Linked DNA regions of Homo sapiens. The protein of the gene in region 2 interacts with the protein of the main gene of each other region in a biochemical or structural test. Each region holds a gene or a part of one and is shown on either strand. Other genes may lie near its edges.

Evidence for each region.
Region 1: of the proteins of SIK2 (region 2) and CRTC2, one has a biochemical effect on the other in vitro, tested with the Homo sapiens proteins (2 studies listed by BioGRID).
Region 3: of the proteins of SIK2 (region 2) and CRTC3, one has a biochemical effect on the other in vitro, tested with the Homo sapiens proteins (one study listed by BioGRID).
Region 4: of the proteins of SIK2 (region 2) and ACACA, one has a biochemical effect on the other in vitro, tested with the Homo sapiens proteins (one study listed by IntAct).

What each region holds. Positions count from the first base shown.
Region 1 is NC_000001.11:153,948,288-153,956,240, reverse strand, and holds part of CRTC2 (CREB-regulated transcription coactivator 2), read left to right. Parts: intron 1-1,074; coding exon 1,075-1,176; intron 1,177-1,251; coding exon 1,252-1,368; intron 1,369-1,924; coding exon 1,925-1,986; intron 1,987-2,634; coding exon 2,635-2,703; intron 2,704-2,871; coding exon 2,872-2,975; intron 2,976-3,268; exon of another isoform or gene 3,269-3,342; coding exon of another isoform or gene 3,343-3,361; intron 3,362-3,406; coding exon 3,407-3,436; intron 3,437-3,590; coding exon of another isoform or gene 3,591-3,605; coding exon 3,606-3,670; intron 3,671-3,794; coding exon 3,795-3,844; intron 3,845-3,978; coding exon 3,979-4,223; intron 4,224-4,574; coding exon 4,575-4,981; intron 4,982-6,856; coding exon 6,857-7,126; intron 7,127-7,340; exon of another isoform or gene 7,341-7,407; intron 7,408-7,596; coding exon 7,597-7,783; intron 7,784-7,911; coding exon 7,912-7,953. UniProt on the Homo sapiens protein: Transcriptional coactivator for CREB1 which activates transcription through both consensus and variant cAMP response element (CRE) sites.
Region 2 is NC_000011.10:111,723,757-111,731,616, reverse strand, and holds the end of SIK2 (serine/threonine-protein kinase SIK2), read right to left. Parts: coding exon 7,488-7,860; 3' UTR 4,653-7,487; coding exon of another isoform or gene 4,560-4,652; 3' UTR 3,565-4,559; coding exon of another isoform or gene 3,407-3,564; 3' UTR 762-3,406; downstream 1-761. Other genes in the region: PPP2R1B (serine/threonine-protein phosphatase 2A 65 kDa regulatory subunit A beta isoform), read left to right, coding at 3,407-3,564. UniProt on the Homo sapiens protein: Serine/threonine-protein kinase that plays a role in many biological processes such as fatty acid oxidation, autophagy, immune response or glucose metabolism.
Region 3 is NC_000015.10:90,602,223-90,610,175, reverse strand, and holds part of CRTC3 (CREB-regulated transcription coactivator 3), read right to left. Parts: intron 7,853-7,953; coding exon 7,791-7,852; intron 5,792-7,790; coding exon 5,729-5,791; intron 2,799-5,728; coding exon 2,698-2,798; intron 1-2,697. UniProt on the Homo sapiens protein: Transcriptional coactivator for CREB1 which activates transcription through both consensus and variant cAMP response element (CRE) sites.
Region 4 is NC_000017.11:37,083,819-37,089,116, forward strand, and holds the end of ACACA (acetyl-CoA carboxylase 1), read right to left. Parts: intron 5,257-5,298; coding exon 5,120-5,256; intron 3,622-5,119; coding exon 3,498-3,621; 3' UTR 1,174-3,497; downstream 1-1,173. UniProt on the Homo sapiens protein: Cytosolic enzyme that catalyzes the carboxylation of acetyl-CoA to malonyl-CoA, the first and rate-limiting step of de novo fatty acid biosynthesis.

The DNA.
Region 1 (7,953 bases), on a different chromosome or scaffold from region 2:
TGCCAATTCAAGAGCCTTAGGATTCAGTGGAAGAATGTCCCTTGGTTTTGGTGCTGTTTTTCCAGCTAGGAGAGCTGCTATTCCTTGGATGTTCTAGTTTGGGAGGTGCAGGCTTTGTGTAGCCTTCCTGAGGCTGGGCAAGTGGCAGAGCCCAGAAGCCTGTGCTCTCCAGAGTGGGAAGGAAAGAGGCTGGCAGTAATGGCTCTGTGACATCCACCTGTGGCCTTCCTCTTAATCTCTCAATTAGTCCTGGACGCATCTGGAAAGAAAGCAGAGGTTCCTAATAGGCACTCCCCCTTGTGAGTAGCCCGGGAGCTCCTGGCAGCCCCTCAGGGACTCTGCTTAGAGTGATGCCAAATGAGACAGGCCCTCAGCAGAGTATCTGTCTCTGCCTGGCAGGATGATGTCAAGCAGTAGTGATATCATTGATGAGGGCAGTCTGCAGATGGGCTCTGGTGGGTTATTTGCACCAAATCTCGGTGGACCTTTCAAACCCCAACACTGGCCTTTTTTTTCTGGCAGATAATTTCTTTATTTTTTTTTTAACTTTTTTTTTTTTGGAGACAGGATCTCAGTCTGTCACCCAGGCGGCTAGAGTGGAGTGACATAAACATGTCTCACTGCAGCCTCTACTTCCTGGGCTGAAGTGATCCTTTTTTTTTTTTTTTTTTTTTGAGACAGAGTCTCTCTCTGTTGCCCAGGCTGCAGTGCAGTGGCACAGTCTCGGCTTACTGCAACCTCCACCTCCCAGGTTCACGCCATTCTCCTGCCTCAGCCTCCCGAGTAACTGGGACTACAGGCGCCCGCCACCACGCCCGGCTAATTTTTTGTATTTTTAGTAGAGACAGGGTTTCACGGTGTTAGCCAGGATGGTGTCGATCTCCTGACCTTGTGATCCGCCTGCCTCGGCCTCCCAAAGTGCTGGGATTACAGGTGTGAGCTACTGTGCCTGGCCTAGATATTTTAAAAGCAGTGGCGGCAGCAGCATATCCTGGTGACAGAGATGGCAAGGATGGCTGAAGGAAATAGTGCTCAGGACCCTCCTGACATTCCCACTTGTTCCCCATGTCTCAGTTACAGGCCCAAAAACTGCGACTGGCATACACAAGGAGCTCTCATTATGGTGGGTCTCTGCCCAATGTTAACCAGATTGGCTCTGGCCTGGCCGAGTTCCAGGTGAGTAGACCCCAGCCAGGGAGGAGTGGAGTTTCTTAGGCTGCTTCCTCTGCTGACTTCTGTCCTTTTTGGCAGAGCCCCCTCCACTCACCTTTGGATTCATCTCGGAGCACTCGGCACCATGGGCTGGTGGAACGGGTGCAGCGAGATCCTCGAAGAATGGTGTCCCCACTTCGCCGATACACCCGCCACATATCCTTCACAGGGGACTTGGGAGTGTCTGAAAGGTAGTGGGATGGGGTTCCTCAGGGACTCATAGGAAGCACTTGAAGTGTTGTGCGTCCCTTCCTTCTCTTGGAGCTCTTCTTTACCCAGCTTCCCTGAAAAGCGACCATAGCCCCTGCGTCAGCACCTGCTCCTGTGACAAGGAGTTTTGCTCCTGAGGCTGTGCCCCCTGTCTCTGGCTGGCTCTGGCTGTCTTCACATCAGCTTGCTGCCAGAGGCAAGCCTTCCTTGTCTCCTGCTAAAGGAGATTGGGTCTCTTCTCAGATTTCTAAGTTTTCAGTCTCAGAGACCTGCATAACTGTCTCCTCCAAGCCCTGCCTGAACATTCTCCTGGATTTTTTCAGCCCCTTTAGACCTGATTCCCTTTTTCTCTTCCATTCTTTGATCCTATTGTTGTCCCTTATAGAAGAGGAGAAAGGTATGAGTTTCTTGAAACAACTTATCTGCTGCCTTCATTGTTCTTTCCTCATTTGGCCTCTCTCATCTGTCCTCTCTACTTTTTTCCTTAACTGGTGCTGTTCACATTGACAGCTCTCCCTATAGTCCTGCCTACTTATCTCCTCCCCCAGAGTCTAGCTGGCGAAGGTAAGTGTCCAGGGCGGGCAGAAGCTCCTGCCTACTCTCTGACGTGTTTCTGGAAGGAGTTGCCCCTTCTGGGTTGGGGCTGGGATTACTGGGCTAAGGTTTCAACAGTACCTCTTCCTATAACGCCAGGGCTGAGAGAGGTGGAGACAGTTGGAGTAGGTGGGTCAGAGTCCAGCCTTGGCCATGTTGACACTAGTGGTCAAGCCTCCCAGTCCAGCCAGAGCAGAACCAATGGGAACCATAGCCAGGCTGGGGTGTGTGTGTAAGGGGGAGGGGAGAATGGCAGAGGGGCAGGTGAAAATGGCAACCTTCTGTCAAGGGTGGGTGCAAGATGTAGTGTTCTGGCACTTTTAGATTTCTTAAACTCTCCCCTTGTCCATCTCACTTTCAATGCTCATACCCAGGAATGCTGCTGGGCTCCAAGATTCCCATTCAGCTGGTCCTGGCAGAGAGAAGTTTCCAGCTCTCTTAGATTGACTGGGGGAGGGGTCAATCATAGGCAGGAGAAGAACCAGAAAGAAAAGGGGATGATCTGGGTGCTCAGCCATCTTTACTTCCACCTTAGCTGCCCCACATTTTCCAACCCCTATGCCCACCTTCTTGTCCACTGCCAGCCTTCCTCCTCATGACTTTGTTTTTCTACCCCAGGACGATGGCCTGGGGCAATTTCCCTGCAGAGAAGGGGCAGTTGTTTCGACTACCATCTGCACTTAACAGGTGATGGCTTTTGCCTTCTTTAGGCCAGATCTCTTATCTGTAGTTTCTGGGGCCCTGCTCCCTCACCCCCACCCTGTTCCAGACCAGCTAGTGTTTTCCCTTGCTGGGCAGGGCTTAGGGACCAGGAAGACTGTCACTGGTGTCAGCTCATTCCTGCTCCCCCCATAGGACAAGCTCTGACTCTGCCCTTCATACAAGTGTGATGAACCCCAGTCCCCAGGATACCTACCCAGGCCCCACACCTCCCAGCATCCTGCCCAGCCGACGTGGGGGTAAGTGGCCCTGTCCCAGGGTTGGGAGTAACCATGGAGCTATTTATTTATTTATTTATTTATTTATTATTTCTTTCTTTTTTGAGACGGAGTCTCACTCTGTCGCCTAGGCTGGAGTGCAGTGGCGTGATCTCGGCTCACTGCAACCTCCGCCCTCCGAGTTCAAGCGATTCTCCTGCCTCAGCCTCCTGAGTAGCTGGGATTACAGGCATCTGCCACTGTGCCTGGCTAATTTTTTGTGTTTTTAGTAGAGATGGGGTTTCACCATCTTGGCCAGGCTGGTCTTGAACTCCTGACCTCGTGATCCACCTGCCTCGGCCTCCCAAAGTGCTGGGATTACAGGCATGAGCCACCATACCCGGCCTCCATGGAGCTATTTAAAGCAGGTAGGCAAGTGAGCACTGCAGCCAATGCCACTGTATCCCTTGCAGGTATTCTGGATGGTGAAATGGACCCCAAAGGTATGTGTTCCTCACTGCTGTGGGTACTGAATGCCAAAGAATTTCTGGGCTGGTGTTGGGATTGTGTGCAGGTTCAGGGAGCAGGACTCCTTCCCACCTGCTTCTGCTTCCTGTCCTGCCTTACTGGCTCTTTCTCCAACTCTCCCATCACCAGTCTTTCTCTTTCAAGTACCTGCTATTGAGGAGAACTTGCTAGATGACAAGCATTTGCTGAAGCCATGGGATGCTAAGAAGGTAGGAGGAGGCCACCGGGTGTCACCCACTAGTCTCTCTGCTATCCCCTTGCCATGGGGCAGGCCTTCCAGGGTTCTCTGCTGAGCACTGTCCTCATTTTCCATATTCTCCCTTCTCTCCTCAGCTATCCTCATCCTCTTCCCGACCTCGGTCCTGTGAAGTCCCTGGAATTAAGTAAGTACTCCCTGAGGTTGGCTGAGAGGTGGGGGAAGGAAGTACAGGGAGATGTAGGAGACTGATCTCTGCTCTTCCCTGACCACTGCACCCACCCTCCTATTTACATCTTTCTTTTTCTCTCCTTCCCCTAGCATCTTTCCATCTCCTGACCAGCCTGCCAATGTGCCTGTCCTCCCACCTGCCATGAACACGGGGGGCTCCCTACCTGACCTCACCAACCTGCACTTTCCCCCACCACTGCCCACCCCCCTGGACCCTGAAGAGACAGCCTACCCTAGCCTGAGTGGGGGCAACAGTACCTCCAATTTGACCCACACCATGACTCACCTGGGCATCAGCAGGGGCATGGGCCTGGGCCCAGGCTATGATGCACCAGGTGAGTGACTGTCCTGGCCATGTGCCCACTGGGTGCTGCCTGACTGGAGGGATGAAGGGGAGGTAGGTTTGAGCACCTGAGATCCTGCTGTGATCACCCACACCGCCTGTCACCTCTGCACCCCAGGATTCCCTCACGGCAGTTCTCAGCCAGTGATAACTGGTAGGTGTGGTGTTTCCTAGAAAGAAGAGGAAGGGCAGTCCCCAGATGGGCAGTGCTGTCAGGGATAGAGTAGGGAGGACGTTGTGTTGCCGCTTTCATAGTCTGGTCACTGCCACCCATTCTGGGTGGAAAGGGGCTCAGTTCCCATCAGTAATGTTGGCATCTCTGGTTTTTTGTCTGTGCCTGCAGGACTTCATTCACCTCTCAGCCACCCATCCCTGCAGTCCTCCCTAAGCAATCCCAACCTCCAGGCTTCCCTGAGCAGTCCTCAGCCCCAGCTTCAGGGCTCCCACAGCCACCCCTCTCTGCCTGCCTCCTCCTTGGCCCGCCATGTACTGCCCACCACCTCCCTGGGCCACCCCTCACTCAGTGCTCCGGCTCTCTCCTCCTCCTCTTCCTCCTCCTCCACTTCATCTCCTGTTTTGGGCGCCCCCTCTTACCCTGCTTCTACCCCTGGGGCCTCCCCCCACCACCGCCGTGTGCCCCTCAGCCCCCTGAGTTTGCTCGCGGGCCCAGCCGACGCCAGAAGGTCCCAACAGCAGCTGCCCAAACAGTTTTCGCCAACAATGTCACCCACCTTGTCTTCCATCACTCAGGTATGCGTGGCTGCCTTCCCTGCATGTCTGTCTCCCTTCCCTTTTCTCCTGCCATGTTGTTTCCCTCCCACCCTCCTTTCCTGAAATACCTACTCTATACTCATCCCCTTCCATTCCTCTGTCCTCCGCCTGCCCCATCTTTTATCCATCTTGTCTCCTCTTGCTTCACAGTGCAAACCCAAACGCTGTGGTTAAGCTTTTTTAGCTTCAAACCCTGGCTCCACCTCTTACTAGCAGTCACCTTGGACAAGTTATTTAATTTCTATAAGCCTCAGTATTTTCATTTCTAAAACAAGGATGGTTCATAAGGATCAAATGAAGTAACATACATAAAATACTTAGCACCACACATAGCCCAGGTATGCTTGACAAATAGTAGCTTACCCTTTCCTTTTATTTGCCTCCTCTGTTCCTGTCTGTTTTATATCTGTCTTTTATCTCATGCCTCTATCTTGTCCCGTCTCCTCCCCTGTATCCCCTCCTAATTTCATAGAATTCGTAGAATCAGTCAATTTCCTACTGTGGAGCCCAATTCCTTCACTTAATAGATGAGGAAAGTGGGACCTAGAGGGAAAGTGACTTTTCCAAGTTTACCCAGCAAGTTAGGAAGAGTTGAGACTAGAACTCGAAGCTCTTAGTTTAGGGCTTTTTCCACAGAGATGAAATTCTTAGCCCTTGTCTCCCTTCCTGTCCTTTTCTTCTTGTTCTCTATCTCTACTCCTCTTTTCTTTCATCCAAATGCTCTTTTCCCTCTCCTCTGCCCAACTTTTCCTCCTCCATTGCTATCCCTGGAATGTGTGTTCTGTGTTCCATCTTTACTCAGGTCCCCTCTTTTGTAGGAAAGACTGAGGCCAGATTAGCAAGGGCTCTGTTCCCAGAGTGTGGAGTGAGCTTGACTTCCCTTCCTTTCTTTCTCCTTTTCTTTCTTTCTTTTCCCACCCCCTCTGGCCTCTTCAAGGCTGTAGAACAGCAGTTCTCAACCTTAGTTCCTTATTTACTAACAATAAATAGTTCAAGTATCAAGATTTAAGAATGGTTTACTTCTAAGGCTAGGCACAGTGGCTTATGCCTGTAATCCCAGCACTTTGGGAGGCCAAGGCGGGAGTTCAAAACTAGCCTGGTCAATATGGTGAGACCCAGTCTCTACAACAAATAAAAAATTACCCAGGTGCAGTCGCGCACGCTTGTAGTCCTGGCTACTGGGGAGGCTGAGATGGGAGGATCACTTGAACCAGGAAGGTTGATGCTACAGTTCCAACTATGATTGCACCACTGTACTCCAGCCTGGGCAACAGAGTGAGGCCCTGTCTCAAAAAAAGAGAATAGTTTACTTCTGGAGTAGATTTAAAATTACCCCTGTGTTAGCCTCACTATATCACTTTCATTCTGATAGGCACTTTTTTTTTTTTGGAGACGGAGTCTCGCTCTGTTGCCCAGGCTGAAGTGCAGTGGTGTGATCTTGGCTCACTGCAACCTCCCACTTCCTGGGTTCAAGCAATTCTCCTGTCTCAGCCACCCGAATAGCTGGGACTACAGACGCCTGCTACCATGCCCAGCTAATTTTTATATTTTTAGTAGAGACGGGGTTTCACCATGTTGGCCAGGCTGGTCTCGAACTCCTGACCTCAGGTGATCCACCTGCCTTGGGCCTCCCAAAGTGCTGGGATTACAGGCATGAGCCACCACACCCTGCCAACTAATACACATCCCTGGGGTTGAGTAACTGCACTCAACCCCAGGGATGCCCGTGAGAATGTGGAATGTTGTCATGTTTGTTTTGGGAATGGTTGTAGCTAAAGAAGGTGGGAAGCTCTGACTGAGAGTTCTTGGGGTATACACTGAGCAGTAAGCTTCCCTCTTTTTACTTCTTTTCAGGGCGTCCCCCTGGATACCAGTAAACTGTCCACTGACCAGCGGTTACCCCCATACCCATACAGCTCCCCAAGTCTGGTTCTGCCTACCCAGCCCCACACCCCAAAGTCTCTACAGCAGCCAGGGCTGCCCTCTCAGTCTTGTTCAGTGCAGTCCTCAGGTGGGCAGCCCCCAGGCAGGCAGTCTCATTATGGGACACCGTACCCACCTGGGCCCAGTGGGCATGGGCAACAGTCTTACCACCGGCCAATGAGTGACTTCAACCTGGGGAATGTGAGTACTCAGGCTCCTTGCTCAAAAGCAGGGGAGTGGGTGAGGGTGGGTCAATGGGGCCTGAATGGCATGGCTGGTGCACTGTGAATGGGGAGATCTAGGTGGGGTGGGTGGTGGGGAGATCTCCTCTCCCCGGAGGTAACATAGCACTGCCAGCTTGGGGCTCCTCTCTTCCTGCGTTTGACCCTACTCCTGCCCCTCTATTTCTGCTCAGCTTGCTCTTTGATGACTTCTGCCTTGACCCGTTCTCTTCCTGGCATGCACATGCTCTGGCCCAGCAGGTACGGTGCCCATACTTACTTCGGGCCCCGTGCTCGCTTCTGTCGCTCTGCTTGCTGCCACCTCCCTCTGTCATTGCCTCTGTTCCTGGGGTGGATGAAGGTTGCTGGGCAAAGGGGATATGTTAGCAGGGCTAGGCAGGACACCAGTTCTAAATCCTACTTCCTAAAGATTTGTCTGTATGTCTATAGCTGGAGCAGTTCAGCATGGAGAGCCCATCAGCCAGCCTGGTGCTGGATCCCCCTGGCTTTTCTGAAGGGCCTGGATTTTTAGGGGGTGAGGGGCCAATGGGTGGCCCCCAGGATCCCCACACCTTCAACCACCAGAACTTGACCCACTGTTCCCGCCATGGCTCAGGGCCTAACATCATCCTCACAGGTGAATGGGGGTGGGTGGTGATGGGAAATGGAAGGAGGAAGTGACACATTCACTAATGAGTAGGAGATTGAGGGGTCTTGGAAAAGTTTACAGGACATGGGGTCCTCACCTGTCTCTTCTACCCACAGGGGACTCCTCTCCAGGTTTCTCTAAGGAGATTGCAGCAGCCC
Region 2 (7,860 bases):
AATGTTCTATAGCATGGGCTTAATTGGAATGGTTTGAGTGAAACCAAATTTCAGTCGAGATCCTGCTGCCAGCAAGCTGGATATAACAGTGGCCTTTCACTCAGGGCCTGGCACTGAAACAGGTCCAGGATGCAGGAGAGCAGCTTGGCACATGGTGCCTCCAGCACCCTGAGGGCGTGGAGCTGGGCCTCAAAAGGGTGCCCCGCCCATGTGAGGGAATGCACTGTGTGAGCGCACGTGCAGTGTCGAGGCCTTTGGCAGACCCCAGAGAAGATGTGACATCGTGACTAAGTAGCAGTGTCTTTTGCCTGGCAGCTCGCAGCACCTCCCCTCCCATTTCCAGCCCCTGCCCTGTAGCTGCCTGTCCTCGGGGACCCCTGCATCTGCCTCCCCTCCTCCTACCGCGGCATGAGGCCCTTGCCCAGGCTACCTGGGCTGATGCGCTTTGCCCTGGGACTCTGAGAATCAAGGAGCAGTAATTAAGCAGTGCCCAGCAGGGCCCTGTCCTTGTGCAGGCTGCGGTTAGCAGTGCTTCCGTCAGCGATCTGCAGCGGCTAACGTGTACTCGGGCGATTCAGAGCAAGGTATTATTTACCCTGCTGACGTCAATGAGAACATATTATCCACTGTCCTTTTCTGCAGCCTGAAATGAGCACCAGAACTCAGAGAACACAGCCACCTTCCATACTCTAAAAATTCCACCCAAGGCCCGATGAGGCAAAAACCCTATCGCATTAACCTGACATTCACATCACCCGGGCTCTTAGAAAAGAAGTTGTTTTTATTTTAATTCAAGAGGGTTGGAAACATAAAAACAGTACATTTTCCTTGCAGAAAATTACCCCATTTAAATTACTATTTGGTACAGAGATTATTTATTACACTGCATTTTAGGCAATTTTCTAACATTAAGTGACAAGTTATACTTTTGATTTTTTTTTTCACATTGGAGCTATTATGATTTGCACTCATAATACCAAAGCTACTGAACTCACCAATTTTTTTCTTAGTAATTAAAAAAAAGCACACAGAAAATATAACTACAGTTAGATTAACTTTATCAAAAGTAACTCTTTCAGACCAAACATCCAGCAAAACCACCCACCTCCCTTCAGATATAAGCAAATAATCTTGCCCTTTCTACAAAGTGCAGATATCTCTGTATCCCTTTTATTTCTCAAACTGCAGTCCCCGAAGTGAAGCAAACCTTTCTCTCCACTTCTTTCCCCTTCAGAGATTTTGGTGAAGGCAGGTTTCTCTTACCACCCATGGTGGAAAGGTCTCACCACTTGAATTTCCTTGACTGAGCAAATCTTCTGCAGACAGACACCACAGAGCCAGCAGCAGCCCATTATCTGCACTGGGGAATGTGACATTATTCCATCTGGGGTCATATGTTTCCAGGATGTTGTTTTGTACTTCTATTTTTAAAGCTCCCCTCTACCCACCCACTTTGCCTCTGAAAAGACAGAGTATTAAGTCAAAGTCTGTTATTACTTTTTTAATCCTAAAAGTAATAAGCACTTCTAGTTGATGGGGCTTGACTGTAAGGAAATGTTACGCCCCTCGTTGAGACAAAGGCTGAGTTCATGACCGTTCCTGGGGTGGAATCTGCTGGCCTGCAGTGGTGGCCTGATGCCGTGCGATGCGGCCCCTTGGCAATTGAGGAAGGGGGTGTTCTGTAGGAAACTGCTGTATTGTAACTTGGAAAAACTAGACATCTTTGAGGTGAGCCTAAACTTCTGCAGTTAACTGGACGCTGAAAGGCAGGCGGGTCTGCGGGGTTTTTGTCTCCCTCAGCCTGGTTCAGTGCACGGCCACCTGGACAGCTGCACTGTCACCTGAAGGCGGCCTCTTCCCCAAAGCCAGGCGGCTGTTGAGTGGAGAATAAGGTTGTGGGAACAATATCACATTCACCCTGTGCTTGACCAAAATGGGGGCTTTGTTTATACAGCTGTTTGCTTATGAAAAGAGTCAGATGCTACTGAGGAAAGAGAAGGGAAAGAGAGGGCTTCTTCCAGCACTAGAAGCCAGAGAACCAAAACCAGAAGCCAGTCAACCCAAGCGCGTGTCCCAGCTCCTTCTATCACCAGCTGTGATCTCAGAGAAGTCACAAACTTCCCAAAGCTTTGGTTTCTTCAGCTGTGAAAAATAAGGACAGTATCTCCCCAGCTAATTTCATAGAATTGTTGTGAGGGTTAGAAGAGAAAGTGCTTGGTAAAACTAATGTACAAATATAAGCTATTGCTCCCTTGTGGGTGGGCGAGCAGAGTATCTGGGCAGAACCCATCACAGCTCTCCCTGGGTGGGTCTGCGAGCACTGCTGCCGCCTGGTTCTCTATCTGTGCCCCAGTGTGTGCCTGAGTCTGCTGATAGGTTGAAACCTGCCTGGAGAAGATGTGGACACAAGGTGGGGGTGCACGTAGGATGGCTGTCTTCTAGAATCAGCTAGGCTACCTTAATTAGGACAAAAATGGTAAAATAAGAATGTGAGAGGCTACTGGAAGGTGAGAGGCTCCACTGCTTTCGTTCACCTGCCACCAAGGGCCAGACAAGGGCTCTGACATTACAGGTGCTTCAGACCACACTGTAGAACCTGTCAGAAGGGAGATGATAGAAACTTTAAGAAAATCTCTTTGTCCAGTTTAGAAACAGAGGCAGATGATACTGCTCTTGTCTTTTTTTTTTTTTTTGAGGTGGAGTCTTGCTCTGTCGCCCAGGCTGGAGTGCAGTGGCACGATCTTGGCTCACTGCAAGCTCCACCTCCCGGGTTCACGCCATTCTCCTGCCTCAGCCTCCCGAGTAGCTGGAACTACAGGCGCCCACCACCACGCCCGGCTAATTTTTTGTATTTTTAGTAGAGACGGCGTTTCACTGTGTTAGGATGGTCTCAATCTCCTGACCTCGTGATCCGCCTGCCTTGGCCTCCCAAAGTGTTGGGATTACAGGCGTGAGCCACCGCGCCCGGCTGATACTGCTCTTGTCTTTCATACATTGCTCTGAAGATAAGTTCTATAAAAAAATTCCAGGTCGGGTGTGGTGGCTCACACCTGTAATCCCAGTACTTTGGGAGGCCAAGGTGGGTGGGTCACCTGAGGTCAGGAGTTCAAGATCAGCCTGGACAACATGGTGAAACCCCATCTCTACTAAAAATATACAAACTAGCTGGATGCGGTAGCACACACCTGTAGTCCCAGCTACTTGGGAGGCTGAGGCAGGAGAATGGCTTGAACCCAGGAGGTGGAGGTTGCAGTGAGCTGAAATCACGCCACTGCATTCCAGCCTGGGTGACAGAGCGAGACTCTGTCTCAAAAAAAAAAAAAATTAAATAAATTCCAGAAGCAACAAAATGATCAAAGATCCCTGCCTGTACAATGACTCCAACTTACGAGCTTCCCTGTTCTCCAATTTTCACCTTTCATGTTTAGGCACAAAGAGACCGAGTGGCTCGGGTGGCTTCCCAGGAGGCAGTTAGAGGCAGCCCAGTTTAGGAGTTTGAGTGTAGCAGGTCAGCCCTGGCACCGGTGTCAGCCACTGTTCACAGGGACTGAGACTGTGAAATGACACACTGCATATTGTCTCTATAGGAGGTCGAATGGGAAAAAGTTACCTGGAGTATGAATTTTCTTTAAACCAATAGGGAGCTTAAATGTGACTGTTGATACAGGTTTTAAAATGTAATACAAACATATTTACGAACCTGGGGCTTGACTAGAGGCTGGAGGACCCCAAAAAGGAGCGCCACTCACTCACTGTGTCCTTGCATCCTCAACTGCCCGCATGTCTCCAGAGGCTGCTTAGTGCCCACACGCCTGGGACCAACTGTGACTCCAGGCTGCTGCTTGTCACCTTGCCTTAGTTTCTGGCTGATCACCTAATCACTCTGGAGCTGAGAATATCCTTCTCCCCACATCTAACCCGTGGGCAGAATTCTGTGAGCGTTTCCCTGCCTTTAGGACTGATGACACTCGGTGTGTGGGTGGAGGTGGGGGAGTCGTCAGTCTTATGATGAGTCTCTTCTGCTGGAGACTTTGGTCCACGAGAGAGGGTAGGGGGCAGGGGAGAGGCCGATACTCCTACAGGGGGGGTCCCCCCTTGCTCCCCATCAAAATGCAGAGCACCCCATTACTCCAGCACCAGAGTTGGGAAGGGACACAAGAGGCAAGGGCTGGCTTCAGTCTTGGGCTCCTGTCTGTCCCAACCACTGACTCCAGCATACGGTTTAAACACTTGGGAGTTCTTGATATCTGAGGAAGAAAGGGCCACTGACTTTTTCTTTCCTAGGAGGCAAAAGTGGATGGAAGAGAGAAGGGGTTTGCTCAGATGGGCATGAACAGCCCCTGAGCCCCATCCCCACTCCCCTGGTGGGCCCTGATGCTCTCCCACGCAGGGATTCTCAAGGTGGATGGTGTAGAGAACCATCAGCCTCCTTTTCCCACGGTGACAGAAGGCAGTGCAGGCAGAGGTGGCGAGGGGGCAGCTGGGGACGGTCAGTGTCACCGGGAATGTGAAAGTGGGCCCCCTCTTCCTGTCGGGCTAACATGCTGTTTGCCTTACAGGGACCAGTGTATCAGTTGCGTGGAGATACTAGAGACACACTTGCCCAGCTGGGAATTGCAGAGCTAGTGCATTTCTCCCAAAGCACAGACTAATACCCCAGATTTAAAAAAAGAACATAAAAAATAAAGTACCACACATATTGCACTTTTTGCCGAACGAAATTTTTACCTCACGTTCATCTCACCAAAGTCTCTTCAGAGGAGCCTGGTTTACAGGGTGATGAAGCTGATGATGATACAGTAGTGTACACACTGCTAACGTGAATCAGACTGGAAAGCAAGTCAGTACTTCAGAGTAGCCCCGCAGAAAAAGAGCGATACTAAGCCTTCTTAGTGTTTTGTTTGTTAGTAGTGATGAAGAGAAAACTGCTTGGAAGCTTCCATGGGTCACTAGTTAGGGACAGAGCAGCACAGGTGATCAGACAGGGCTGAGCAAACACCTGACTGACCAACAGAACCAGTCTCCTCAGCAGCTTACATTGCAGTCAATACAGAGGGTTATGGAATTTATTGATTTCTGCTTGAAATAAACAAGATAAGCAAATAGGAGCTTACAACACAGGTCCCAGCAGGAGGGGTCACGCTCTGCATCAGGCCGGTGTCCACGCCGCTGCCGTGTGTGACGGATCCTGATAGGCCTGGCTGCTGTAGGGCACCTCTCGATTTCTCTCTGGGTCCTTAACCTTCCAGTAGCCTCTCTGCAGTCCCTCATCGGCTGGCCTAACCGTCCTGCCATAGCTCCCAGGTCTCCTGGGCTAAGCAGCTCATGGCATTGTTGGGGGGCAGGAGTTTATGTCGATCTGTAACTACACCATTCCTGCAGTTCTGAAATGAGTGGCCCCCATTTTCAATCTGCAGGCATTTTAATATCGCAAATATTGTAGCACTTCTGTAGTATATTTTGGGAAAACGTCTTCCTTCAGTCTAAACAAATCAAGCCCCATTTTATAACTGGCTATTTTGTAAAGACTCAAAACAGATTAGAGATCTTAATGAAATGATCTCTTAAATGAAATGATGTTCTTTATTTCACGAAATCATCAATCTTAAGCACGAGCAGGAATAAACAACTCCCAGAAGAAGCTTAATTCATTCTTCCTGGATTTTCACTGTGTGTTATTAAATCACAAAAATGACAGTCCCCACACTGCCCTTTCCCACTGACACCAAGTCCAACCGTGAGCACAGTGCCTCTGCGAAGCATCCTGGCACCCATGGTGAGCGCTGGCGACCAGGCAGTCTCTGGCCAGCAACAGGGACTGCTCAAGTTACCGACGTTGGTAGGAGCTGGGCTCGCATGGCCAGAATGGAACCCCCTAGACTTTCCACACGTCACCTGCCTGAACGCTAACTACAAAGAGGAAAGGCAACTTAAAGGTGTTTTCTAGATGCAGCATCAGTTAGTCCCTCTCTTTGTGCTTTAAGGAAGATGCTTTGTGCTTAACACATTCATCTGCTGATGGGACAAGCCATTCTAAAGGGCAGAAATGATCATCTTTAGAATTAACACTGACTTTGTAACACCTGGATGTTAACTGTCCAAATGGCAAATTATTCATCATTTCTAGGGATACAGTTAGCTAGCTGTAGCATCTAATTTTTACTTACTTTGATGACTGAATTGTAAGTGTTGGTTAAGTTTTATTAGTAATATAATGTTTGGCAGATGATCTGCTTAAATGGTTAACACATCTGTGGTTCTTTCTTTGAATATTGCTGTAATACTTGAACATTTCATTACAAGTCAAAACTTTAACGAAATTAAGAATGCTGATTCCCACATGGTGGAAAACAAACTCTGAAGTGACTTTGGATTTAGCATTGACATAAATGGAAACTGTTGGTTTCTACAGAAAAGAAAGAATTAAAGCATGATCTGGGGGAAAGGCACCGCACTACCACTTCACATGGGACAGAAAAGTTCATTTATCATGTCCTTAAAATCTCTAAGCCCTATATGAAACTGTCCAAATATACAAAGCTCAATAAACTACTAGCAACATATAGTGTAAGGTCAAAGTAGTTATTACATCGGAAAAGAGACAACAGGTACCCTGGAGACCGACTGCCCGCAAGCCAGCAGTGTCCACGAGAAACTGCAGGAAGAGCCTGTCTTCCCTGGCCCAGGGCTGGTGCTCTTGATGCGTTCTTGAGTTTCTTGCCCCCTGCCTCCACGGTGGCGGGTCTCCTGTCAGTTCCACGTGTGACACCTCTGGAGTCCTGAGTATATTCTGACACTCGGCAACCCAGGGCACCTTCTGAAGGGGTGTGTCACCTGCTTCCGAATGGAGATGAAGGCGGTTTCTGGGGTCAGTACCAGCTGTTATTTAGTGGCCCCTGAAACACAGCTCATGCCCCACTGCTTTGTGATGGCCTTGGGGGACAACTTGCATCAGCAGCTAAGAACTTAGGATTCAATGACAAAGCACAGCTTTCCTTTATTTCCTGTGCATCTGATTTCCTGATGTCTTCTTGATTTGCCTTGTAGCAATATGTGGTTGCTCAGCTTCAGTGAAAAATATATTGCCTTTTCCCCCATATATATGCAATAGCACACACCCTTTCTGCTTTCACCAAGGTTGCCCTTGATAATAAACGGATGTAATCCTGCATAACACCTGGGTCTGAATGTCTTCTTAGGAACACATTTGTCAGTGCTGCCCTCGAGAGCTTGCTCCACTCGACCGAAGGGCAGGAGCCTCAGCCTACAACTATGTTCCAGCACTTGCCACAGAAAACTTTGTGGTGGGGCAGAACCAGGAGGAAGCAACATCCACCCCAGCCAGACCCTCTGATTCCAGTTGGGTGGCTCGATTTCTCCCCGTTAGGGAGAGGGCAAGAAAATAAGCTTTAAATTTAAAAGGCTGGAATAAAAATAGGAACATACACTCTTCCTTCACCTGACCCACCTCAATTCCTGTGCTGAGACTAATTCACCAGGACATACCCGTTGTGTTGTGGATCCACAGCGTCTAGCATTTCACAATCAAAGAGTCCAGGTAGCTCAGAGAGGGCTAGTGGGTCGTAGCTGGAGGGGGCCTCTTGCAGTCCTGGGCTTCTGGGACAGTCTGGCCCCGTTAGGTCGCTCTGCTGGGCTCCATCCACAGGATACTGACAGGGAGTGGGATAGTCTGGCGCAGGGGAAGCAGCGCTTGGCAGCTCACAAGTCTGATAGGAGAACTGTAAGGGGGCTGGGGCAGCTCCTGGCTGTCGTGGTGGTGGAGGGGGTGGTGGCGGTGGCGGCTGCTGCTGCTGTAGCTGCGTGGGCAGAGGAGGAGCAGCCCGGGGACCGGAAGTGGAG
Region 3 (7,953 bases), on a different chromosome or scaffold from region 2:
AATGAAAAACTTTAATGAAACACAGGAGGAAAATACATGAAACTATTTAAAATAGCTCCCACCAACAAATATAATTCTCCAGAAATAATTTCCATCCTTGGAGACTTGAATAATATTTTAAACACTGGCTTTCCCATGTAAACACATCCATATTAGGATGTGTTTCTGAGTTCTGCTATACTTGCAAGGCAACTGCAGGAGCAGGCACACAGTTCAGACATCTGAGTTGGAGGCCAGCCCACCCTCCATGGTTGTCAGATATTGTAGCCCAACAATTTCTAACTGCTGATTTGAAAAGGAGAGACCACCACGATTCTCAAGTCAACGCAGGAACCCTGATCCAGGATTTCTTTCTTTCTTCCTGTTTTTCTCATTGCTCTGTCTACCTGGACCAATGTTTACATTCCTTTGCTTTTCTTATTCCATCCTCACTTACCCCTTCTGACATTTCTCACCTCTTCTCTCAGAGGCTACATCGCTAAGAATGAATACTTCAGCTCAGGTAATTTCTTTCTTCAGTTACTTTCTTTTTCTTAGCATGCAAGCCTCAAAAAATCCTCACTTGAATTACCTGTGATTGCCTTGTTTCTCTAGGCCTTTGGCCCTTTCTAGAGAAGTGTAAACTTTGCAGAGGGTAATGTAAATGAAGGATCGGCAGAGGCAGAAATGCAGGAGCTCCAGGGTAAAAATCTGTCTGTCTAGCTGGCTCCCGGTCCATGGAGATTAGGATCCTGCTGTGCTCACAGGCACCCCCACTGATTACAGCCTCTGCTTTTTTTAGGCTTTGTTTACATATTCCCATCTCTACCTATCCTGAAACTAAACTCATCCCTCTTCCCACACACCCCACTCCTCTAAGCAGTGAGCAGTGCACCCATATCCAATTCCAACATCAATTTCAACATCACTGCCAACTTTCATATTCCCATGTATGGAAGCATGGGTAGATGTCCCTAACCAATTCTGAAAGCTCCCATAGTTTACAAGCAAACAATCATTTAAGCAAATGTAGTCTTCTCTGAATTGCACCAATAGAACAAATATAGCAACAATTATTATTCAGTACTATCCCTGCTATATACAAAGAAATACGATCATAAGTGTTCTCCTGGAAGGAACAGAGGCCATTTAGGCTTTAAATTGTCCAAAAAGCAAAGAAAACCAGAAAAGCTGGTTTCTTGGCTAAAGATTTATTTATTCCTGTTTCAAGAACAAATACACAGCCCTGAAAGTTTCTGGGCAAGAGTCAATCTGCATATGGAATGGATAATTCAAGACCATTGTTCTTTCTAGATTATAAACCCCAGAAAGGTAGGCTTGAAATGTGTCTGAATGACCAGCCTCACTTCATGTACAGGTCAGGTGCCAGCACCGAGAGGGTGTTTTGGCAAATGCCGTGCACATGTGAGCCAGTGTGTGATTCTTCACACTTCTCCATCAGTACGGGCTCCTCTGTGCCGGGCACTGTGCTAGGGGCTGGAGAGAACAAGACCATTAAGATGCTGCCTTCAAGAAATCTACACTGAGCAGAGAAAGAGATGCATGTTCACATAAAAAAGCAGCCAAGCATTGCAGGTGCTAAGAGAGCAGTCTGGGATGTTAGAAGGACACGATAACTCTGAGCTGAGAGGAAGGAAGGTCAAGGATGGCTCCACAGACATGAGGACACACACAAGCTGAGGCTTACGGATGGAGAGGGTGCTGGCCAGGAGTGAGAGAGAGAGGAAGAGACAGGAACAGGAAGAAACACCAGTAGAACCCAAAGTGGTTCGCATGGCTACCTTGGGTGTGAGGCGGGGGAGCAGAGAGAAAAGGGAGAGAGGCAGACAGGAGCCAGGCCTTGGGGCTCATGTCATTCCAAAGAAGATCTGGGCTCTTTCTCCTGAAGGTGAGGGGTGGCACTGAGGATTTTAAGTGGGAGAGCAAGATGATCAGGTTTGGGTTCGCTCTGGAAGCAGAGCTGTGAGATGGCATGAGTGGGCCTCTTCCCCACTCCGGGTTACTCCTGGCCTCTCTCCATCCCCTTACTCACAGTGGCCAGGGGGCAACTGAGCAGGTGATGCACAGTTCCAGCCCGACCTCCTCTTCCCCCATCTCAAGGCAGCAGGCCTCTGCTCCACCCTCCCTCCCCGAGGCTTGCCTGACCCCTCCTCCCAGGGGACCACACTGGCCAGTGCTGCCAGCCACTCAGGGGGAGTCAGCCTCATGCTGGGGTTCAGTCTCAGCAGGCCCACCAACCTACAGAGACAGTCACTTCCTCCAACCTGGTCTTAGTAGTAATAAAGGTGATATCTAGCTCTGACTGTCACTTCTAGTTGTATTTCTCAGTTTGTTCAGATCCTGGGTGGGGAAAGAGGACTCTTGGGGAACTTAACATAAAACTGGATTGAAGGGATGTGAGACTGGAAATCAGGAGACCAGTCAGGAAGTTATTAGAAGATGACGGGTGCCCAGAAGAGGGCCAAGAGACACCAAGAGGGAGAGCGTGCTGTGGAGGAAGCAGGGCAGAGGCAGGGGACGCTGGGAGCTCCATCCATCCTGACTGCATCATGGACACACACGCTTCCCTGCCACGAGCTGCCTCTCTAAGATCACTGAACCGGGAAGCGCAAACACCACTTCAGCTTCTCTCTCCCTTGGTTCCTAGGACAGAATGAGCAAGCACAGCTGCTGTCAGCAGTGGCCTGTGTGTCTTACCCATGTATGGGGCAGGCCAGGCCGACTGGCCCCCTCCTCCATAGGGGTCCTGGGGCTTGGTACTCAGAGCACTCGTGTGAAGAGCAGAATCAGAATTGGTCCTAAGGAGGGGAGGAGAGAGGCTGGCTGAAAATCCGTTTTCCTTAGTGAAAATGCAATAGTCTTTGTTGAATATTACCAACAGGAAAGAAGGCAAGAATAACTGATTTATAATCAACCATCAAATAAGGGGTTAGGACCTACCTGAAGTTCTTTATATCAATTAACAGCCTCTGAGGATCGCCCACACTCCAGAATATTTTAACTTAGACTCATATAGCCTTATATGCTGAAGCTGATGGCATGGCGATCAAGTTCAACAAGGTGGGCCTCGGATTCATGGCTTCCGTCTAAGAGCTTCCTATTCTTCCCAGCTCGGAAGCTGGCTGTGGCCAGTTTAGCCTGTGGCTGCACTAGGTTTTCTCCACCTGAGAGTAGCTGTTTCTAAGTAAAGGATCACTTAGAGCAGTGGTTTGCAAAACCCTTCCAGGGAGAAGGTAAGATCAAGACTATTCTCAAAATGATAGTAAAGTGTCCTCTGTTTTTTCACTCTCGCTCTCTCCCAAGCACGGCGGGCTTCCCCAGCGGCCACGTGAGGTGTGATGCCCCCACCGCTGAGCGCAGGCACAGACCACCCAGCTGCCTTGGAGGGATTTGTAAAAGGTGAACATTGTCACTATTTTCAATACTTTTTTTGTGTTTCTTTTCAAAAAGATATAATTTATGTTAACATGTAATGGGCTTATTATTTTTTTAATTCACTAGTATCTTTAAAAAATCTCTCAGTTTAATTTCTAATATCAATAGATATTCTCACATAAACAAATACTCTTTGAGGGCCTCAATATTTTTTTTATTTTATTTTATTATTTTTTTCTGAGACAGAGTCTCGCTCTGTTGCCCAGGCTGGAGTGCAGTGGTGTGATCTCGGCTCACTGCAACATCTGCCTCCCGTGTTCAAGAAATTCTTCTCCCTCAGCCTCCCGTGTAGCTGGGATTATAGACGTGCGTCACCATGCCCAGCTAACTTTTGTATTTTTAGTAGAGACGGGGTTTCACCATGTTGGCCAGGCTGGTCTCGAACTCCCGACCTCGGGTGATCCACCTGCCTCAGCCTCCCAAAGTGCTGGGATTACAGGCATGAGCCACTGTGCCTGGCCTATTTTATTTTATTTTACTAGTGTTACTTTTTGAGATGGAATTTCACTCTTGTCGCCCAGGCTGCAGTACAGTGGTGTTCACTGCAACCTCTGCCTCCCGGGTTCAAGCGACTCTCTCGCCTCAGCCTCTCAAGTAGCTGGGATTACAGGAACCCGCTACCATGCCTGGCTAATTTCTGTATTTTTAGTAGAGACGGTGTTTCACCATGTTGGCCAGGCTGGTCTTGAACTCCTGACCTCAGGTGATTCGCCCGCCTTGGCCTCCCAAAATGCTGGGATGACAGGCATGAGCCACTGCGCCAGGCCTCCATGTTTTTTAAGGCTGTAAAGTAGTCCTAAAAGAAAATGTGGGAGCCACTAATGTATAGCAAATTTCTGAAATTCTCCCAGATAGCTTCAATGTCTACACAGCTTTGGTTGCAAGAGATGATTATCTATTTATCTCATCATAAGGTCAAACTGTCGGCCATAGAAAGGACTTTACGGTAAGCAACTTCATTAGCCTACAGTGCTTCTTTGTGGTTCATTCCAGTGACAGCCTCAGGTGGCTATGAAGCCACGTGGCTTCAGAGGAGGGAAGAGGCAGACAAGGGCAGAACCCACAGTGCAACAGAAAGAGCGTGGCCGCTGAGATCAGAGAGACCTGGGTTCAGATTCCAGCCTCTTTTTACAGATTCAAAGAGACTCAAGAGAATATCAAACGAATGCAGAGCCAACTGGGAAAATCTAAATACCGACCAGGCATTGAATTATATTAAGGAGTTATTTTTAATTTTGTTAAGTGTAATAGCGGCATTGTGGTTATGTTTTTTAAAAAAGGTTCTCGTCGGCCTTAAACTGCTGGAGACATTTCAAGGTACAATACTATACTAGCCAGTCACGGGACTGAGGTGGGAGGTAGGTTTGGAGAGACTGGCAGAATGCTGATAATGAGTGAAGCTGAGGATGGGCACCACAGGCCTTTTATAACTCTTCTGTTTGAGTATATTTAAAATTTTGCACCATTCATCGGGTTTCTTTTTTATTTTGAGACAGCGTCTCTCTCTTGCCCAGGCTGGAATGCAATGGCGCAAACATGGCTCACTGCAGCCTCAACCTCCTTGGGCTTAGGTGATCCTCCCCACCTCAGCCTCCTGAGTAGCTCGAACCACAGGCACGTGCCACCACGCCTTTTTTTTTTTCATAGAGACAGGGTCTCACCATCTTGCCCAGGCTGGCCTCAAACTGCTGGACTCACACGATCCTCTGGCCTCAGCCTCCCAAAGTGTTGGGACTATAGGCGTGAGCCACCATGCTCAGCTGCATTTTTTCAAATCCTAGTCCTTCACCTATTAGCTAAGGCCCTTAAACAAGTCACTTAACCTTTTAGAATGGAAAATAATACTCATTCTTGTAGGGTGTTGTCAGGATTGAAAAAAAATGGCTGAGGTAGAACTCTTACTCCTGGAGTCTGGCCCAAAGTGATCATGATAATAGCTGATGTTTATTCAGCACATATGCTTCCCAGGTATTATCTTATTCAACCCTCACAACCAACCCATGATCTAGGTAGCATTATCTCCATTTTTCAAATGAGTAAACTGAGGCAATCAGAAGTTTAAAAATCTACTCAAGGTCATACAGCAAGATGCAAACCCTGGGAGTCTCATCCCAGACCTCGTGTGCTCTATACTTTCCCCTGTAGACACTCAAAAAATGGTGGGTTTTGTTTTGAACATGTCATATCAACACAGCTTACATAAACACACTCTGGCAACTGGATGCTATGTAAAAAATATCAGGACAGTTAAATTGCTTTAAAATCTACTCCTACCAGGAAACAACCCATGTACCTGTTAAGTGCAGATGTCAGCCTGAACCCAGGATGCTTTTCGTCTTTCCAAGGAGGCTGCTGCCTTTAAAAACCAGAACAACATAAAAGGAAAAGAAGTCAATCCACAGACAGCAAAGGAGGGCCTCAGCACTTGCATTTGAGAACTGGCTCTTCTACTCACCTCGCTCTGCAAGAGTTACTTAAAAATACCCCACACCTCGCTCATTTTGCTCATCATTGTTAAAATGAGGTAAGACTCCATGATCCTTCCAGTCCTGTGATCTCTGATTTCCAGTATAAAAACTACTACAAACCCATAAGGCACAGGATTAGCTAGCTGGGCAGATGAGGAGTTCAGTGTGCATGTAGGGGGCGCCGTGGCAATCTTGGATGCAAAAATTTTGCATTCCCCTACCAATGGCCATGAAGAGGAATAGAATTGTTACAGTTGCCCAGGGTATGAAAATATTAAGTCTAACCAGTCCTGGTGCTCTGAAAAGCAGAAGACATTTCTTGGATACATAAAAGAAAAATAACAGTTTGGAGATGACTTTTACTGATGTAATAAAATATTGTATTTATTCTACAACCCTGGATCCCAAGATTCTTGAGGGCAGCTGAAAACCTACCTGAGGTGGGGACCCACTGTTACCCATCTTTATTTCCTTTCCCAGATCCAGACTACATTATACACAGTAAGTTCTCAGTCAGTATTTGCCCAGAGAATGGATGGAGAGTAGACTTCAATCCGGAGAGCTAAATATTTTTGATACACACATTTTAAATGTGTCCTAAATCTGACTTGGTGATCTGAAAATGATACTAGGCACACAACAGATGCAGCAGGGGCTTTTTCTCAGTTAATTCTATTTCCTGTTACCCTCTGTATTGGGTACAAAAATACTCAAAGAGACCTTAAATCAAATACACTGTGCAAATTACCATTTTAAGAGTCTTTTGTCCTTTTCAGCAGCTTACTAAGACACTCTGAGAAAAGATGCTTATTTTTCTTTCTTTTTTTTTTGAGATGGAGTCTCGCTCTGTCACCCAGGCTGGAGTGCAGTGGCGTGATCTCGGCTCACTGCAAGCTCCGCCTCCTGGGTTCACGCCATTCTCCTGCCTCAGCCTCCCGAGTAGCTGGGACTACAGGCGCCTGCCACCACGCCCGGCTACTTTTTTGTATTTTTAGTGGAGACGGGGTTTCACCGTGTTAGCGAGGATGGTCTCGATCTCCTGAGCTTGTGATCTGCCCGCCTTGGCCTCCCAAAGTGCTGGGATTACAGGCATGAGCCACCGTGCCTGGCCAAGATGCTTATTTTTCTAAGTCTCAAACATAAGAATGCCATATCTGAGTATTCTGCTGGTAAATATATTCCAAAAGTGTTTCTATTTGGTTTTAAATATGAAGATCTAGATTTCTTTAAATAACTTTTCATTTTAGACTTTCATATTAGCCTATCATTGGAAATGCTTAGGTGTTTGTTTTTGTTTTTTGAGATGGAGTCTCACTCTGTTACCAGGCTGGAGTGCTGTGGCGTGATCTCAGCTCACTGCAACCTCCGACTCTCTGGTTCAAGCAACTCTCCTGCTTCAGCCTCCCAAGTAGCTGGGATTACAGGCATGTGCTGTCATGCCCAGCTAATTTTTGTATTTTTAGTAGAGACGGGGTTTCATGATGTTGGCCAGGATGGTCTCAATCTCCTGACCTTGTGATCTGCCCGCCTCAGCCTCCCAAAGTGCTGGGATTACAGGCATGAGCCACCATGCCCGGCCAATAAGGTGTTTTGTTGTTGTTGTTGTTGTTGTTGTTGTTTTGTTTGTTTGTTTGTTTTTAAGAGATGGCGTCTTGCTATGCTGCCCAGGCTGGAGTGCAGTAGCTATTCACAGGCCCCATCATCGCACACAACAGCCTCAAAACTCCTGGTCTCAAGTGATCCTCCCACTGAAATTAAATGTTATAAGAGAAAACAGGATTCTATGCTTTATATTAGAAATTTCTAAACAACATTCAAAGTGGATAAAGTGAAATTATCTAAAAATAACACATGCCCATCATATCTTTTAAAGTATGTCTTGCTTACCTTGGCCAACTCTCATCCAGAGGCTGTGAGGAATAATTGGCTCCAAAAGCACTACCATCAAAGTAGAATTTTTAATAAAGGAAAAATAAAAATTAATGGAAAGATGAAGCAGAATTAACAAGGTGGACTCACAGAGAGTTAAACAACTGAGTTTTTGGTTCCT
Region 4 (5,298 bases), on a different chromosome or scaffold from region 2:
TCAGGGTGAATCAAATTGATATTTTCTTAACACTCTATTTCATTTTAGAAAAAGCAACCCTTTGCTTTGCAATATATCCCAAAGAGAGAGACAGATACAACATTGAGTTTAATAATCAGCAAAGGGCAGGGATTTGCCTCCTGTGACCTGTATCTTTGCAGACATTCAGGAATTGGTGCTTATTCCTGCCTTAATTATAGGGATTCATAGAAAGCTTTTTTTTTTTTTTTTTTTTGAGACGGAGTCTTGCTCTGTCACCAGGCTAGAGTGCAGTGGTGCAATCTCAGCTCACTGCAACCTCCGCCTCCCAGGTTCAAGCAATTCTCCTGCCTCAGCCTCCTGAGTAGCTGGGACTACAGGTGTGTGCCACTGCTCCCACCTAATTTTTTATATATTTTTAGGGGGTTTCACCGTGTTAGCCAGGATGGTCTCAATCTCCTGATCTCATGATACACCCACCTCAGCCTCCCAAAGTGCTAGGATTATAGGGGTGAGTTACCATGCCCAGCCCATAGAAAGTTTTTTTAGAGAGAGAAACTGAGGCAGAGGGTTGACGGCATGGAATCATGAGCTTCCTGCCCCGAGTGCCTTTTTGTGCCCAGAGTTAAAAATCCATGAATAGCTAAAGAAAGAAAATCTAAAACCTTCCTCTCAAATCTCTAACAAGGGCCATGCGGCCCCAGTGTTTACACTGAGTTATCAGAGCACTCTCAACTTCCTGTATGCTGAGAAGGGACTTCTGAGGAGGACAGTGGGCTCTGGGCTTCCAAGGCCTGGAGCTGTTATCCTCACTAAACAGCTGTGGTCTTTCTTGTCCCTGCTCTAAAGACATTCTCTTTTGGAGGGGACATTCCTGCCAGGACTCCCATCCAGCTCTCAGCAGGAAGAAGTTTCCCATCCTGAAAAACTCAACAGAAACTAAAAAACTGACCCTCTGCTACGGGGTTCCCGAGCATTTGTAGCCTTTCAGAGTTTGACCTTGATTCAGCGGATAAGACAGGGCTGGCCAAGGCCAGCTTTTTACTGCCTACCCATCATCTTTATGCAAGTTCAGGAGACAAAGGGCTTTAGGTGTTACAGGGCCATGGAGGGGCTTGCCCCACACTGAGCCCCTGCTGAAAGCAGAACAAGAAATGAGGTGGCTGGGCATGGATTGAAATGACAAACTGTAACTCTTCTACAAATGTAGAGGTTTATTTCAACAAAATGTGTAAAGAGTGCATCTGAAGCTCCTGCTCATCACAGTATGTGTCCATCAAATTCTGAGACAAGTGAAGGCTGTTTTGTGAACGAAGAGAACAGATAATATGGCGGTCTCCGTCCAAGCAGGTCTTGGTCAATATCCATCATTTATACTCCTCCTGCCTTAGTAGCCTTGCATGTTTGAGGGGCTGTGGGAATGTCAGATTGCTCATGTTCTGTGCCTCCAACTTGAAAAAATCCTTGTCCAGGGTAAGACCTACAGTAAGGAGCTCTGGGGATGGGGGAGGAGGCATTACAGGGTTCTAGAGAGGAAACATACTCGTTTGTGTCATAATTTGGTGGGGAGAGGGGAGGTAAATGAGTGTAACCCACCCTGCCTCTGAAGACATGCCTGGACAGGCCTCCTGGGGGGTGCAGGACTTCATACCACTTGTAGATATGTGGGATTTGATTTATTGCAAAAAAGCATAGAAGAATAATCTGGTCAAAAATGAATCCAATTCTTACTAGGTAAGCAAATAGCCAGCAATGGTCAATGCATTTTCCTGGACTGAGAATTGTCCCCCACCACTTTATGCCCTTTTCTGAAGGTGCTGAACACCTGTACCTTCCACCAGGGCAGCCGGGCTGAGGCTCTGACTCCTGGGGGCTGTCCGCTCCATACCCAGCCATACAGTGCCCACCTGCAACCCAGAACCATTGAAAAGTCCAGCCAATCTATCCGCACAGATTCCTCCTGAAGAAGGGGAGGTGGAGCTCGTTCTTGTGTGCAAACTACAGGGTTAAGGCTCAGAACTGTGGCTTGTCCAAGAACGTTCATACCACTGCTTCTCAAATGTCTTAGTGATTTCCTCCTTGGTCATCAGTGACAAATGCAGTTAGCTGCACTAAAGGAACCGGATGCTACACCAGCCCTGATCACCTGCCACTCTTGCTTTAGGAACAGAGGAATCAGTAAGTTCTTTTCTTGAATAAACTAGTTGTTGAAAGTAAACTCTCTCCACCACCTGAGGAAGCCCCTGATGCCAGTCAGGAGGGGCCAGTAAGCCTGGAGGACAGCAGCACCATGACTGAGTTGTAAATAATCTTAAGGTCATGTGGATTCTGTGTTTCCTGGAAGCCTCCCTCATCAGGAAGGCCAGCTCCTGGTGCTGAGGGTGTAGCTGTCACCAGGGTCCTTTCAGAGCTGTGGGGAGACCTGCTGCCTGTCTACACTCTGGGGAAGAGAGTAGAACCGTTAGCTGCTAGGACAGTAATCCTGGAACTAGGGAAGAGTGAGTGTGGAGGCACCATTAACCTCTCAAAACCATCCAAGCTCCAGGCTTCATAGGAACAACTTTCCAAGTCCTCAAAACAAACAGACTATCTATCTATCTCACTGGCTCTCCACATGGCATAAATAACTAGTTTCCACCAGTGCAGAAAGGGCAGTTCTCTTCTGGCTCCTCCTCTGCCAACTCAGGCTTCACCACCTGTGGAACTGCTGGGGCCCCTCAAGCACTGGCCTTGCAGCTCCCAGCCACATGCGACAGCTAGTCCAGCAGTGACGTGCAGGCGAGAGGCAGGCCAACAACTACCTTTCCCTTTGTCCTCAGAGACTGAACCCAAGGTTGAGGTCCCCTAAATCAAGAATAACTGGTTCTATTTTCTTTCTCTGCTTCTTGGCTCACAGTTTTGCCCTCATCTTTGAGTTCCTATGGAGCTTGTAGTAGATTTTATGCTCTAATTTTTCTTCATAAAAGGTACCGTAGTGTGGTTAAACTGGGAATCATTCCTCTCCAGTGCCTACTGTGTGCTGGGCTAAGAGTCGGGGTAATAAACAATGGACTTGAGGCTTCCTCCTCTCCTTAGCCCTCCTCTGCTGCCTGTGGCTGCGGCTCATGGGGCCAGGAGTGAGGGGGGCTGCTCACTGCTGGGCAACTCCTCACGCTTCCCCATGCTGGGAGGCCAAGGGGCTGTCAGGACAGGAGGGGCAGCCCTACTTTGGTTAGTAAGACCTCATGGTACATGTTTGTACCTTTCATTGCCTTCTCAGTCCTGTGCAGGGAGTGGAGGACTAGGCCTGGCCAGGGTAATAAATACTGAATGGGGTAGGTGTGACTGGTGGGCTGGAGGGGGATTCTGTGATCTTACATCCCAGGATGTCATGCATAACCTGAAACGAGAGGAAGTAAAATGCCATTTGACTCCAGTGCTGGGTCTCCTGTGCCTTCTCATTACAGTGGTTACAGTTGTAAAAGGCAGCTCTAGCCCTTTTCTCCAGAGACAGGGCAGGGACAGGCAGGAAGCTCTTCCTACGTGGAAGGGGAATCCATTGTGGAGAGGATCCGTATGACTTCTGCTCGCTGAGTGGGTGATATGTGCTGCGTCATATGGATGATGGAATCCATGGCAACCTCTGGATTGGCCTGGACCAAGCTGGAAAGGAAGATTGAGAATGGTGAAGAAAAGAGAAGCAGAAGTGTCTAGATGAGGACAGCTAAAGAACTGCCCAATAAACATGTGTGCACCGTCCACTGCAGACATTTTAGTCACGCCTCACCTTATTTGTTTCCCTATATTACAAATATCCAGCCAAGGTAGTGCAAGACAAACCCAAAACATTTTGCTATGTTGAAAAAGGAATTAAACCCAAAACAAAACCCAAAAAAAACCCAAAACATGCCAATGGGGGCATGTCACAAAGACAGCAATTGGGGCATCAAAAGCAGCCCAGCAATGAATTATAAATCAGTAAAAAATAGAACTTCATGAGTCTGTACCAATAATGTATATATAAAAGAATCGGCAGGAGTGAGGACTGAGTGGTGACTGGTAATTGTGGAGGGTGTGCTGGAGTTGGAAAGTTATCATTTTGCAAGCTCATCGTAAAGACTGCACCAGAGGGAAATTTTGATGAAAGCAAGATACTTGCATGGCCTTAAAATGTCTTCCTGCAGACTACTTATTAGGTGCAAGGGGGGAAAATCAGTAATTATACGGTAGAGAAATGGAGCAACATCTTGACCAGCGGATGAAATTAACACGAGGAGGAGCAGATAAACAGCATGTGCCCCCAGATGTGGTGCCCTGTGAAGGTTCTGGCCAGAGTGCCTCACCTGCATCTCATCATGGGGAGACATCAGACAAACTCAAAATGAGCAATGTTCTACAGATGGTAGATATCAGATAAAAGTTTTTAATCAATGTTAAATTTACAAAAGTGGATCATTTTATGATGGTTATGTAAAAGTATCCCTATTCTCAGCAAATGCACACTGAAATATTTGGGGGTAAAGGCCATGATATATGTAACACCCTTAAGTAGTTCAGAAAGAGGAAAAATGTATACACATATGGGAGGGCAGGCACACTCATAAGTGATATAGCAACGGGGAGAAAATGTAACAGGTAAATCTGAGTACAGATATTATATATAGGGGTGTTCTTTGTACTGTTTTTAATTTTATAACTTTTCTGTAAGTGAAATGTTTCCAAATAAACTTTTACAAAAATGCCCCTGCAGTCTCTACCACCGATCCTATGGAGCAGACTGAAGCCTCTAGAAGAATACAGCTAACTCTTGGCTTCAGGAGGTGAGGAGGTGGTTTCCCAGGAAACCACCACACACACAATCAGCTTTCCTCCCAGAGTTGTTCATCCGGTTTGAGTATCAGCATTCAGAGCTAAGAGGTGGGCACAGTGAATTAAGCCTTCATCTAGCTGAGATTACTAAGTGCCCCTGGGGAGCAGTAGCTGAAAAAGAATTGGGCTTCAGGCCATATCTGTACCTGTGGGTCAACTACAGCTGTCTCAAACAGCAAGAGACTGCAGAGATCATAAGATTTCTGCGATCATCTCATGATTTGTTTGGAAACTTTTTATTCCAAAGAAATTAGCCCTCCTTCTCTAGTGGAGTTCCCCACGTTGGTCTCACCTGCGGATTTGCTTGAGGACGTAGTCTCTGCTGATGCATTTGATGTTTTCCTCTATTACCGAGTGAACACCATCCTCCTCTGTCAGCTGTTTCTCTAGCCACTCCGCCAGATCCTTATTATTGTCCCAAACATAAGCCTGCAAACAGATGACTCTTGGTCAAACACCAGGGGTCAGGCC